2 linked regions of the Homo sapiens genome follow. The protein of the gene in region 1 purifies or fractionates together with the protein of each later gene. This does not show direct contact. Each region holds a gene or a part of one and is shown in the gene's direction. Other genes may lie near its edges. The genes, in order: PFKP and TMPO.

Evidence for each region.
Region 2: the proteins of PFKP (region 1) and TMPO fractionate together in Homo sapiens (co-fractionation; 2 studies listed by BioGRID). This does not show direct contact.

What each region holds. Positions count from the first base shown.
Region 1 is NC_000010.11:3,062,940-3,070,726, forward strand, and holds the start of PFKP (ATP-dependent 6-phosphofructokinase, platelet type), read left to right. Parts: upstream 1-4,608; 5' UTR 4,609-4,656; coding exon 4,657-4,768; intron 4,769-5,030; exon of another isoform or gene 5,031-5,050; coding exon of another isoform or gene 5,051-5,081; intron 5,082-5,687; exon of another isoform or gene 5,688-5,982; intron 5,983-6,249; exon of another isoform or gene 6,250-6,442; coding exon of another isoform or gene 6,443-6,450; intron 6,451-7,787. Other genes in the region: wiskott-Aldrich syndrome protein family member 1-like, read left to right, coding at 3,764-4,201. UniProt on the Homo sapiens protein: Catalyzes the phosphorylation of D-fructose 6-phosphate to fructose 1,6-bisphosphate by ATP, the first committing step of glycolysis.
Region 2 is NC_000012.12:98,546,559-98,551,104, forward strand, and holds the end of TMPO (thymopoietin), read left to right. Parts: intron 1-1,014; coding exon 1,015-1,300; 3' UTR 1,301-3,793; downstream 3,794-4,546. UniProt on the Homo sapiens protein: May help direct the assembly of the nuclear lamina and thereby help maintain the structural organization of the nuclear envelope. Possible receptor for attachment of lamin filaments to the inner nuclear membrane.

The sequences.
Region 1 (7,787 bases):
ACTTATTCACTCACTTATTCACTAAGTCACTCGTTCATTCACTTATTCATTCACCCATTCACTCACTCACACATTCACTCACTCACGTTCACTCATTCACCCACTCATTTCACTCACTCATTTACCCACTCACTCACTTACTCCTTCACTCATCCACTCACTCACTCATTCACTGACTCACTCACTCACCCATTCACTCATTTACTCCTTCACTCACTCACTCCATTCATTCAGCAGCACCCATGGCAGGTTCACTCTGTCCTGGGCTCTGCTGTTGCCCTGGGCCTGCAACAGGGAATAGTCAAAGATCTCTGAATCCACAGCATTCAGAGTTCAGCAGGGGGGCCTGTCGAGAAGCCCAGCAGATAGGTGAAATGCCCCACGTGTGACACGCATGAGGCTGTTTTAAGAGAAGCGGGGAGGGAACAGGAGTGTGCATGGAGCCCGAATTTCTAACAGGGTGATCTGGGGAGGCCTCACCATGCAGGAGACCTTGCAGGACAGACCTGAGGAAGGTGGGAAGAGTGGGTAGGGAGAGGAGGGCCCGGGCTGAGGAAAGAGCAGGCTGGGCCTGAGGTTGTCGGGTGCCTGCATGGGTCTCTGGGCAGCACTAGGATCCGATGGACCAGTGGGCCATGTGTGGGGCCTGTGACTCCCAAGTCAGCAGAGGAGATGCCTGAATTACATCCTGATAGGTGCACCCTGACTTTGAAGCTGAGGACACCCGAGGCATGGAGGTGGGGTGGAGGTGGGGGCAGAGCAGGGGATGGGGAGGGAGCCTGTGTCAGTCCAGGTCACAGGTGGTAGCTTGGCCCCAGTGGCTCCAGATGCAATGAAGAGCCAGGAGGGACCTTCCTGAGAGACTTGGATGCCAGGGTAGAGGAGCACTGCAAGGCTTCAGCCTGAGACCCTGGGAGGATGGGGTCACCAGGAGCTGAGGTGAGGAAGACCGAGGGGTGGGGGGTTGCGTGGGGGTGCAGAGGCCTAAGCTCAGTTTGGCCCCTGCAGATTTGAGATGCCTACTCCATGCACAGGCAGAAACAGCAGGGGAAGGGAAGAGGCTGCAGCTCAGGTAGCCCTGGTGGTGGAATGTGCAGCCCAACATGCCGGAACACAGGGTTATGGTGCCCTCATGGCTAGGAGCTGCTTTCCTCCTGGGATGGCAGGACTCCTTTAGGGCACATGGGCAGCTCCTGCGCTCACCGCAGAGGGGAAGTGGGAAGGGCATCTGTCCCTATGCATGTTCTCCTTCACCTTGTCCTAGGCAGGTCCCAGGCAGCACCTCCCCTCCCAGTGGCTCCCCGTGGCCCCTGCCCCTAGTGTTCACAGCCAGATCCTCGAAGAGGGCTGGACTCCGTTGCTCACTTCTAATGAACAGAATCAGGCAAAAGAGACGGCGGTCTTTCCTGAGATTGGATTGGGAAGGGCTGCAGGTTCCGTCCACTGGAATTCTCCCCCTGGCTCTTGACATGTGCTAGTTCTGGCAAAGCCAGTCACCTGCCCAGGGCAGAGGGCAGCCTGAAGCTGATGCCAGGGACAGACTGGGGCCTTCAGTCCAACAGCCTGCAAGCAACAGAATCCTGCCAGCAACACAGGAGTGAGCGTGGAAGCAGCTCCTCCCATGATGAGCCTGAGCCTTCAGAAGACACTGTAGCCCTGGGCAGACACCTGTTGCAGCCACAGAGGGCCCCTGGGGCAGAGGGCCCAGTGAAGCCTGTCTGAACTCCTGGTCCAAGGAGTAATCATTCCTGTGGTATAAGTGTGTGCTGGTGTGGGCCACAGTTTGCAGTAATCTGTCAAGGGACAATAAAGAACAAACACACATGTCAGGTCCTACTGGGTGGAAGCCGTACAGTCAACAAGGCATGCAGTATCTTCCTCTTGAATTAGAAGATTCATTGCTCAGGCCAAAGATTAAACAACAAAAAAAAAATCTCTAGTTGTAGCACCATTAAAATACACGACTTGCAAAAAAAAAAAAAAAAAAAAAAAAAAAAAAGAGCCATAGCTATGCTTTTCCATCTTAGCTACAGGTATATATAAATATATGTTAATTCCTTGACTGACTGAGCAATGGGTCAAACTCATGAGAATAGATGTGTGAGGACGGTCAGTGACCACCCTGACCCCAGCCCTTACATACAGACAAACTTTTGAACATAATCCATAACCCTGGGGATCTGGACACTCTAAATTTTATTGTTTTTAATTAACTATTTCTATTCCCCAAACAATACCTGTTCATTGGAGAGAAAAATGGCATTACCTATACTAAGCAAAAGAAAGGAAATAAAATGCTCAGAAACATTTACGTGTGTGCACACTCACACACACACTTACACGCACACGTGCGCACATGCAAGCACAGGCTCACACTGTGTCCAGGCCTGCCTTTTCATTTATTTGTTTGACCTGAACATATTTCCATGTCAGTCGACACTTATCTTCGTAGTGGTAACAGCAATTAAATATTATCGCAGCGTATATTTTTAACCATCATTTATTTAACTCGTCATGTTTGAACTGTTAGGTTGTATTTATCGTTTTCTGTATTACAGACGACTTGATGACAAATGACCAATCCTCTAATGTTCAATATAAAAATATCAATTGCATAAGGAGATAAGGGGCATTTGGCTAAAATAAAATTCAGTGTGCCCCACCCTCTCCACATGTAATTTGCTCTAAAAAGGCATGAATGACTAAATTAGCCCTTCTATTCTCCAGCGCAGCTCCTGAGCCCAGCGGTGGGTGCAGGTGCTTAGAGCCTGGCTCTGCTCTTCTGCCGCCAGAAGGCGAAGGGCACCCAACCCAGGATTCTCCTCTCCTTTTTTATTAATAGAAGAGTGCTCAGGCTCAGTGCATGAGAGCAGCGCTCTCTGACTTTGCACTTATCAGAGTAACCTAGGGGGCTTGTTTAAAAATACACATTCCCTGGCTGAGCTCCCAGAAATTGGACTTCAGTGGTTTAGCGGGAGTGTGCATAGGCCAGGTGATTCTGAGGACCAACAGGGGTTAGGAATTGCCCCGTTAATTCTGGCCAAGGGAGAGATCAGACCATCCAGCATTGTCCGCAGCAGAGTTTTTCCCCCTCTTTTGCAATGAATATTTGATGCTCAGAGGGATGAGCCCCAGGATGAGGCACACATCCAAGAAAAATCCATGCCTCTCCATCTTTTCCCCAGGATTGCCCTAAGGCGAGCCGCTCTTTGTGATTCCTTCACTTTCCCCGGTTCATAGAACAGGCCTCTTCTTAGTCTGTTTTGTTGTCTCTTATCTGTTCAACAAACACCCACTGCGCAGGACCATCCTCCGGTGAGCCGTCGAGTGGGGCCGTTTGGGAGCCCTTCTTCGTGGGTGAGCACTGAAGGAACCCGGGTCCCATAAGCCCGTGCTTCTATGGGGGCTGCCCCCTCTCCCATCGCAGGGTAACTGGCACCAGGCTGTTAAGCTGTGGATGGGCAACCGCACAGTGCATTGGATGTGAGTATTTCAGTACGTGGAGCTGGCCAGTGGAGCCGGCCGAGGTCAGGCAGAGCGTACAGCAGCGCGCGTGTCCGTGGGGAGGGAGGGTCCTCCCGCCTCCCCGCCTCCCCGCCAGGCCAGTCCTGTTGCGCCTCCTCCTGCCCCACTCTGACTTTCCAGCGCCCAGGCCGGGGCGCCGCCAGGGCGTCTCTGAGGGTCGCGCCCCGATACCTTCCTCCACCCCACGGCTTCTTCCCCCCAAGGGCGGGGCTGGGGGCCCAGGAGCACCACAGCCCCCATGGGCCCGGGAAATGGCAGCTTCGTCATGGCCCAGCCCGCCACGCTCACCTTTTCCCACCACCTGGAGGATCCACTCTCCGTCCGTCCTTCCCGACCTCAGGCTGCAGAGGAAACCTGGGGGCGGGGGTCGAGGAAGCCGAGCCCCGAGGCTCCCAGCGCCGCCCCAGGAGGAATCTTGCGGGCCACTAGAAGCTGTGCGCGCGGCCGGGCTCGGCCCCCACAACGGCCCGAGCGGCCGGGCCTGCCGCGAGCCTCCGCGTCCAGGTGGGGTCTCCGCGCCCCCATTCCACCCCTCCCCGCCATCGGCGCTCCCCGCAACTGCGGGGTTTCCACCCGCCCCGGCGCTCGCGCCCACTCACGGTCTCCCTCGCCCCCCCGGGAGATGCTCCCGGCGTTCTATCCCGCCCCGCCCTGGCGCGCCCCGCAAACGATGTGACCCCGGCCCCCTGCGGTCTCCCCTCCTCCGGACGCTGCCCCTGCCCCACCTGTGGCGCTCCCGTCATCTCTAGAGCCCCCAACCAGAGTCCTCCAGCCCACCCGCGAGGCTCGCGCACCTGCGATGCGGCCCCACTAGCAGGGACCCGCCCACCTGTGGCGCTACCCCTGCCTCTGCCGCCTCCCGCACCGCTAGCGCGGCCCCCACCTACGACGACCCCCGCGTAGATGCTCCTGCCCACACCCGCCCCAGCCCCGGCCCCTGCCCCTAGCCGCGCCCGCGCCCCCTCCCCCGCAGCCCCTCCCATACGCTCGGGCCCCGCCCGTCACCGCCCATTGGCGCTGGGGCCGGGCGGGGGCGCGGGCGGGGCGGCGGTTCCGAGTCAGGCGCGCGCGGGCAGGGTCCCCATTGCCTGCTGCGCACCCGGACGTGCGGCTCCCCTCGGCCTCCTCGCCATGGACGCGGACGACTCCCGGGCCCCCAAGGGCTCCTTGCGGAAGTTCCTGGAGCACCTCTCCGGGGCCGGCAAGGCCATCGGCGTGCTGACCAGCGGCGGGGATGCTCAAGGTGCGCGCCCCCCTCCCGGCGGCGAGGGAGGGACGGACGGACGGAGCTGGGGAGAACCGGGCGAAGGCGATGGGGTGACCGGAGAGAAGAGGGGGGAAGCGATGGGGGGGACCCGGGGAAAGGTGGCGAAGCGATGGGGAGAACCGGGGAGAAGAGCGGGGAAGCGATGGGGAGAACCGGGAAGAAGCCCGCGCCCGGAAGCGGCAGGGGTACCTGCGGGGCGGCATGAGCCGGCGAGGCAGCCCCGGGGTCCTTGCCCGGTGGGGCGGGGGAGGAAGGGACATGGCGGTAGGAACCTCCATCCGGAAGATCAGTGAGTTTTCCACCTTCGGTTTTGTTTTAAATGGAACCTGGCAGAGGGAGTCGCCTGAAGCGCCCTCGGGGGTCGTTCTGCCTCTGAGCTGTAGGACGGGGCCGGGCGTCCCCTCCGAAGCGTGGGTACAGCGCGATCACTTCCTAAGTGCCCCCCCGCCCCCCAACTCCGCCGCACGCCACCCCCTAGAATGTCGAGGAAGAAACGGCTGGGTCCCCGCGCGCCTCCTGTCGCCTCGTGCCCTGCGCGGCGTGGGCGGGGTCCTGGCTGCTGCAATGCGGGACGCGGCGGGGGTGCGCGGGGTTCCCGCCTGGCGTCTCCAGGGCGGTCCGGCAGCCCCTCGCGTTTCCGCTGGGAGATTTTTAAAAAGGGTTTCCTGCGCTCGCATGTGCTGTCGCCTTCCGGCTCGTGACAAAAACGAAAACCAAAATGGGTCCCAGGCCCTCCCCGCCAGCCTCCGCAGACGGGAAGGATCAGGAAGCGGGGACTCCGGGATGTCAGCGGCGCCGCGGCGCGGGCTCCGGGCTTCCCTGCCCTGCAATGTGGAAGCTGCTCTCTAGGAGGGGCCCGAGGCTGGGCCCACGGACGCGGGCGCGCCGGGAGGATATTTAACATTGAAGAGCGGAAGGTGGCGGAGACTCGGCGCGCCCCAGGCCCCGGGTGCACGTGGGGGCGCCGGTGCCCGGATGATGGAGTGTCCCGATCCGTGCAATCCCTGGCGGGTAGATCGGCGCTTCCCAGGCGAACGCAACCTGGGAGCCTTAGCGATCGCGCAGGCTGGAGACGCGGCGCGCCCCGAGCTGGGTTTTGATTTTTGTTTTCCCGGTTCCTCCTGCCGCAGATGCGTGGAAAGGCCCGGATGGCGGATTTCCTCCCGTTTCGGGGCCGCGCACTGCACAGGGTTGGAGCGGGGATGCACCCCCTGCCCACTGCGCGGGTGACCTTCCCTTCGCCCTTGAGCGCGCGGGGCGGGCGCGGGTGCCGCAGGTTGAGGCGCTGTGGGCGCCGCCCCGCCCGCCACGAGCGCCTACGTGATGCCCGGCCCGTCGTCTCCACGAGCCCCGGCCCCGACACCCGTGCGCCGCGCGCTCCCCAGGCCCGCAGCGCAGCCTCCCCAGGCCCAGCGCCCCCCGCGGGAGACCCGGGTGGCAGCGCCAGGCCCCGCCCCGCAGCCCGCCCTGCAGCGCCCCCGGGAAGTGCTCTGGCGTTAGCATTCCAGTAAAAGGACCCCAGCATCAACGTTCTTCCTGCAGGGCTGGGTTCTCAGAGAAAGAAAACGTGATGCAGCAGAGGATGGGATTGAAGAAACAGGAGAGTGAAGTGGAAATAGCCTGGCCCGCGTGACTTAAACCGGCCCGGAGATGTGCGGGTACGAATGGAGCCGCCTTGGGGTCGGGATAGGACCCAGAGTGGCTTCTCAGTCAAAGGCCTTCAGAAGCAGAGGGAGCACCTTGAGTGACCTTACCTGGGCCGCGAAAGACAAGAAACCTTTGGCACAGGAAGAGGAACTGATCTCTGGAAGCCACCAGGGCGGGTGGAAAGTCAGGGTTTCAAGGTTATTTTGGAATTTAGGTGCTGTGGGCCTTGTACGGTGGCTCATGCTTGTCATCCCAGTGCTTTGGGAGGCCGAGGCAGGAGGCTCGCTTGAGCCGAGGAGTTCCAGAGCATCCTGGGCAACATAGTGAGACTCTGTGTCTACAAAAAAAAAGAAAGAAAAAAAATTAAGATACTGCATGTATTGGAAAATATTTATGGGTCATTCCTTTGAGCTCCATGTCCAAAAGCTTGCTAAAATGCGCGGGAGTTTGTGTACAGGCATGTGAGATTAGGATACATTGGCAGAATCGCGGTGTTCTCTGTTACCCTGGTTTTGCCACCTGGGAGGAGTTAGACATATTGAAGGTTAGTAAGTCCACGCCTCTTCTTTTCTGGGGAAAATGATACTTTGGAAACCAATATTATGTGGGGAACGCGGCTTGGTTGCTGCAACCTCGGGTTAATAGGAGACAGCTGCCCTCAGCTCTGCAGGTGGCATCAAATATGGTGGCCTCGAGCCCACATGGGTCACACCTGGGCTGTCCCTGGGGAAGCCCGCCATGGCGGGTCGCCTGGGCACTCTTTCCCTGGCAGAGCTGAAGTCACAATTTTTTTGTAGACTCTGTAAAGAGCTTTACCCTTCGGTGATACGATCTTGAACCTGTTGGAGCATTTGGACGCATTTCTTTTAAGGAAGTTCACCTCCAGATGTACTCAGAGGGCCTGGTCTTAGCTGCCACAGATTTACAAACCCTTACAGTAAGTAGGTTATTCCTCGAGAATATCTCAGTGTCCCCATTCTTTTACCATTTTATTCTGATTCTATGTTAGTACTTGATTTTCCCTGACATAGAAGACTATTGCTTGTAGCTAGAGATGAGAGAACATATTCACATTCACGTATTAATTTCAGGGGAATTTTCTGTCAGATGTGAAATTATGGTAAAATTCCGTATATTAAGATGATCATAGCTACCATTTGTTGAAAACATTTTGTATTCTAAGAGCTTTACACTTCTTATCTCCAAGCCTAAATACATGATCCCAAGAGAGGCGTGTCCTCATTTTGGAAGTGGGGAGAAAGACTCAGAAAGAAAAGTAAGTTAGGTAAGGGCATGAGGTGCATACGTGATTGTGATAGGAGCAAAACAGATCTTAATTCCAAATATT
Region 2 (4,546 bases), on another chromosome or scaffold:
GAGCCAGGTACAATGGTACATGCCTGTAGTCCCAGCTACTCAAGAGACTAAGGCAGGTGGATTGCTTAAGCCCAGGAGTTCGAGACCAGTCTGGGCAACATAATGAGACTCTGTCTACCCACCGACTTTTAAATAAATAAGTGAACGAACTGTTCTTTTGGGAGCAGTTTAATTCCCCTAAGCCCACCAGTAAATATTCTTGAAAGTTGAATGAGTTTCAAAATTGCGATTGGTAAATGGAGGATTTTAAATAAATCACTTACTTACTACTTAAATTCATATGTTAAAATCTAAACGAAAATCTAGTGAGAAATAGTTTTTCCCCCCTAAGTTTCTCTTTTCTAATTGAAAAGGCTGTGTTTATGTATCTTAATTTTTAACTGAAAGAAACACAGCCAAAACTGTTTTGTTTTTCCTCTTTACTCCTAAACATGAGCTTTGAAGAGCCTTTAAGAAGGCAGGTTTAGTGACTATTTATCAGTGTTCTGAATATTCTTTTCTAATAAAGGATGCATCGAACTTTTTTTTTTTTTTTGAGACGGAGTTTTGCTCTGTTGCCCAGGCTGGAGTACAGTGGCGTGATCTCGGCTCACTACAACCTCCACCTCCTGGGTTCAAGCGATTCTCCTGCCTCAGCCTCCTGAGTAGCTGGGATTACAGGCACCCACCATCATGCCCGGCTAATTTTTGTATTTTTGTAGAGACAGAGTTTCACCATGTTGGCCAGGCTAGTCTTGAACTCCTGACCTCAGGTGATCTGCCCGCCTTGGCCTCCCAAAGTGCTGGGATTGCAGGCGCGAGCCACCATGCCCAGCCCATCTAACTTTTAAAATAGAAAATATGTAGAAGTTTTAAATAGGTTGACTGACCTCACTGCTTTATATGTATCAATTTTCTACTGTTACCTCAGGGAATGTGCTTGGAATTAGGAGTGGCAATGACATTTTATGTTATTTCTCTAAATCATGCCTTTATCTAAAATTATTTTTCTTTTCCTCCTTTCACTCCCAACAGTGCTAGTTGCCGCAGACCAATCAAAGGGGCTGCAGGCCGGCCATTAGAACTCAGTGATTTCAGGATGGAGGAGTCTTTTTCATCTAAATATGTTCCTAAGTATGTTCCCTTGGCAGATGTCAAGTCAGAAAAGACAAAAAAGGGACGCTCCATTCCCGTATGGATAAAAATTTTGCTGTTTGTTGTTGTGGCAGTTTTTTTGTTTTTGGTCTATCAAGCTATGGAAACCAACCAAGTAAATCCCTTCTCTAATTTTCTTCATGTTGACCCTAGAAAATCCAACTGAATGGTATCTCTTTGGCACGTTCAACTTGGTCTCCTATTTTCAATAACTGTTGAAAAACATTTGTGTACACTTGTTGACTCCAAGAACTAAAAATAATGTGATTTCGCCTCAATAAATGTAGTATTTCATTGAAAAGCAAACAAAATATATATAAATGGACTTCATTAAAATGTTTTTGAACTTTGGACTAGTAGGAGATCACTTTGTGCCATATGAATAATCTTTTTTAGCTCTGGAACTTTTTGTAGGCTTTATTTTTTTAATGTGGGCATCTTATTTCATTTTTGAAAAAATGTATATGTTTTTTGTGTATTTGGGAAACGAAGGGTGAAACATGGTAGTATAATGTGAAGCTACACATTTAAATACTTAGAATTCTTACAGAAAAGATTTTAAGAATTATTCTCTGCTGAATAAAAACTGCAAATATGTGAAACATAATGAAATTCAGTAAGAGGAAAAGTAACTTGGTTGTACTTTTTGTAACTGCAACAAAGTTTGATGGTGTTTATGAGGAAAAGTACAGCAATAATCTCTTCTGTAACCTTTATTAATAGTAATGTTGTTGTAGCCCTATCATACTCACTTTTTAAGACACAGTATCATGAAAGTCCTATTTCAGTAAGACCCATTTACATACAGTAGATTTTTAGCAGAGATCTTTTAGTGTAACATACATATTTTAGAGAATTGTTGGCTAGCTGTACATGTTTTGAAAAGCTGTTTAGCTAGCTATAAGGCTATAATTGGAAATTTGTATTTTTTATTTACAGCAAAACATTTATTCAGTCATCCAGTTTGCTACCAAAATATGTTTTAGATAAGTGTGTGTATGTTTGTTTAGAAGTTAGAAATTGTAAACACTGGTCTTATGTTTCATTTGGATTCATTATTGCATTGTCTTGTTACCAGAAACAAATTTTGCCGAGCTTTTTTTGCCCTATATTTCCCAGCATAATTTGATTAGAAAGTACAAAAAGGGCCAGGCGCGGTGGCTTACGCCTGTAATCCCAGCACTTTGGGAGGCCAGGGCGGGTGGATCACGAGGTCAAGAGATCAAGACCATCCTGGCCAACATGGTGAAACCCCGTCTCTACTAAAAATACAAAAAAATTAGCTGGGCGTGATGATGTGCGCCTGTAGTCCTGTCTACTAGGGAGACTGAGGCAGGAGAATCGTTTGAACCCAGGAGGCAGAGGTTGCAGTGAGCAGAGATTACGTCACTGCACTGTAGCCTGGCGACAGAGCAAGACTCCATCTCAAAAAAAATAAAAAAGTACAAAAAGTACTTGCTTTTATATTACATCATAAGCAGTAGTTAATAAAGTTGTATACTCTTAAGAGGTGGGCATTATGATTATTTTTTATTTTTTTATTTTTTATGAGATGGAGTCTCACTCTTGTCACCCAGACTGTAGTGCAGTGGCACGATCTGGGCTCGATGCAACCTCTGCCTCCCAGGTTCAAGCAATTTTCCTGCCTCGGCAGAGACGGGGTTTCACCATGTTGGCCAGGCTGGTCTCGAACCCCTGACCTCAAGTGATCAGCCCACCTCAGCTTCCCAAAGTGCTGGGATTACAGGTGTGATCCACTGCACCCGGCCGGCATTATGATTTTGTGTACTCTTGAAATGGTTATCTTTGTGGATGATTTTTTTTTTTAAGCTGAAACTTACCTCATGAATAACTTGATTAAAGTAGTAGGTGATTAAAATTTCAATAGAATCAAATGAGACAAAAATTTTAAACTGACTCATTTGAGTTTCAACTTTACAGTCATTGACCATAAAGCACACTAAAAATGTAAGTTATTTTTAAATACATCTGAAATAAAAATACTTACTAAAAAGGAAGAAGCCGAAGATGTATATTTAGACCAGCACACAATTTTGATTTCAATTAGCCTTATTCTAATATTTAGCTTTTAGATCTTTCATACACATTTTCACGTACTTTGCAATTGAGACCAGAAAGACTTGTAGGTCTTTCTGCAGAATGAGTGGGTCCTTGCAAAGTGAGTGGGAAACTTACTCCTAGATCAGAAATGTTTGCCTCTCTGAGTAAAATGTTTCTTTCAGATGAGCCATAGAGGGGGCACCTTTTACTCAACTTTTCTTTGTTTTGAAACTTTGTTTCCCATACTGTTTTCAGCCTTTTGTTTATAATTAGAAATTGTGAGAAGCTTCATTTAGTGTTTAAAAATGTGGGGAGATAAATCAGACTTAACATGTATGTAAGATCAATTCACTTAAAAGTATGGTCCAAATAGCAAAAATAGGACCAGGTGAAACATGTAGTCATTTTTTAAAAACATGTACTTGGTCTTTTGTGTGTGTCTGTTTTATTCCATTAGAATAAATGTGTCCTTGATGTAAATGCAAAGCATTTCTTCCTGATTAAATTGTAGATGTAGACTTTACAATATAATTCAATAATAAAAAGTAATTAACCTCTAGTTTTGTCGTTGCAATAAATGGTTTTCAGATAGCACAAACTGTGATTTCTGGATAACATTTCTTATGTGATATTTATGGATTATTGTGTTTTATTTCAGTCTGTTCATATGTTTTACTTCTTATTGTAATCGGGTTCTCGTTTATTCAAAGGTAAGCAATGTGTAGCTACTGTACTCACAGAATGACATTAAGCGCTCCAAGGCACCTCTCCCACACCTAGTTCCTTTTTCCCACCACTTTTACTGTCTTTAGTATTTACCTATGACCCTTATGATTGTTAGTCTTGCTTTGAGACTAAGCCCGTGTCACTGTGATACGTCATGGAGCTGTGCTCACAAGATGAAAGTGCCATTATGTCTTCCTCATTCATGTGTCCCCAGAGGTGATTTGACTTAAATTAGTGTTTCTCAAGGTAGTATAGACACCATAATTAATTATAAGGCAAATCGCATCAAAGGCTTAAAACAACAAGTTTTATTGCATGCTTACCATGTGCTAGGTACTTTTCTATGTGCTTAATATGTATTGATTCACTCAATCCTCACGATAATCCTATGGAGTAGGCATTTTCGTAATATCATTACAAATGAGGAAACTGATGGTTAGAGGTGTTAGGAAGCTTCTTCATGTTTGCACACAGCTGAGAAGTGATGGCTCTGGTTGCATATAATATGGCAGAGGGAACCTAAAACAAACAATTCTCTGTTTACATGCTTTAAACCAGTTCTGTGTTCAGCCCTGCTCCTTTCACAACTTTGGTGGTGCCTTCTGAGTTTCAAACCTCTGAAGCG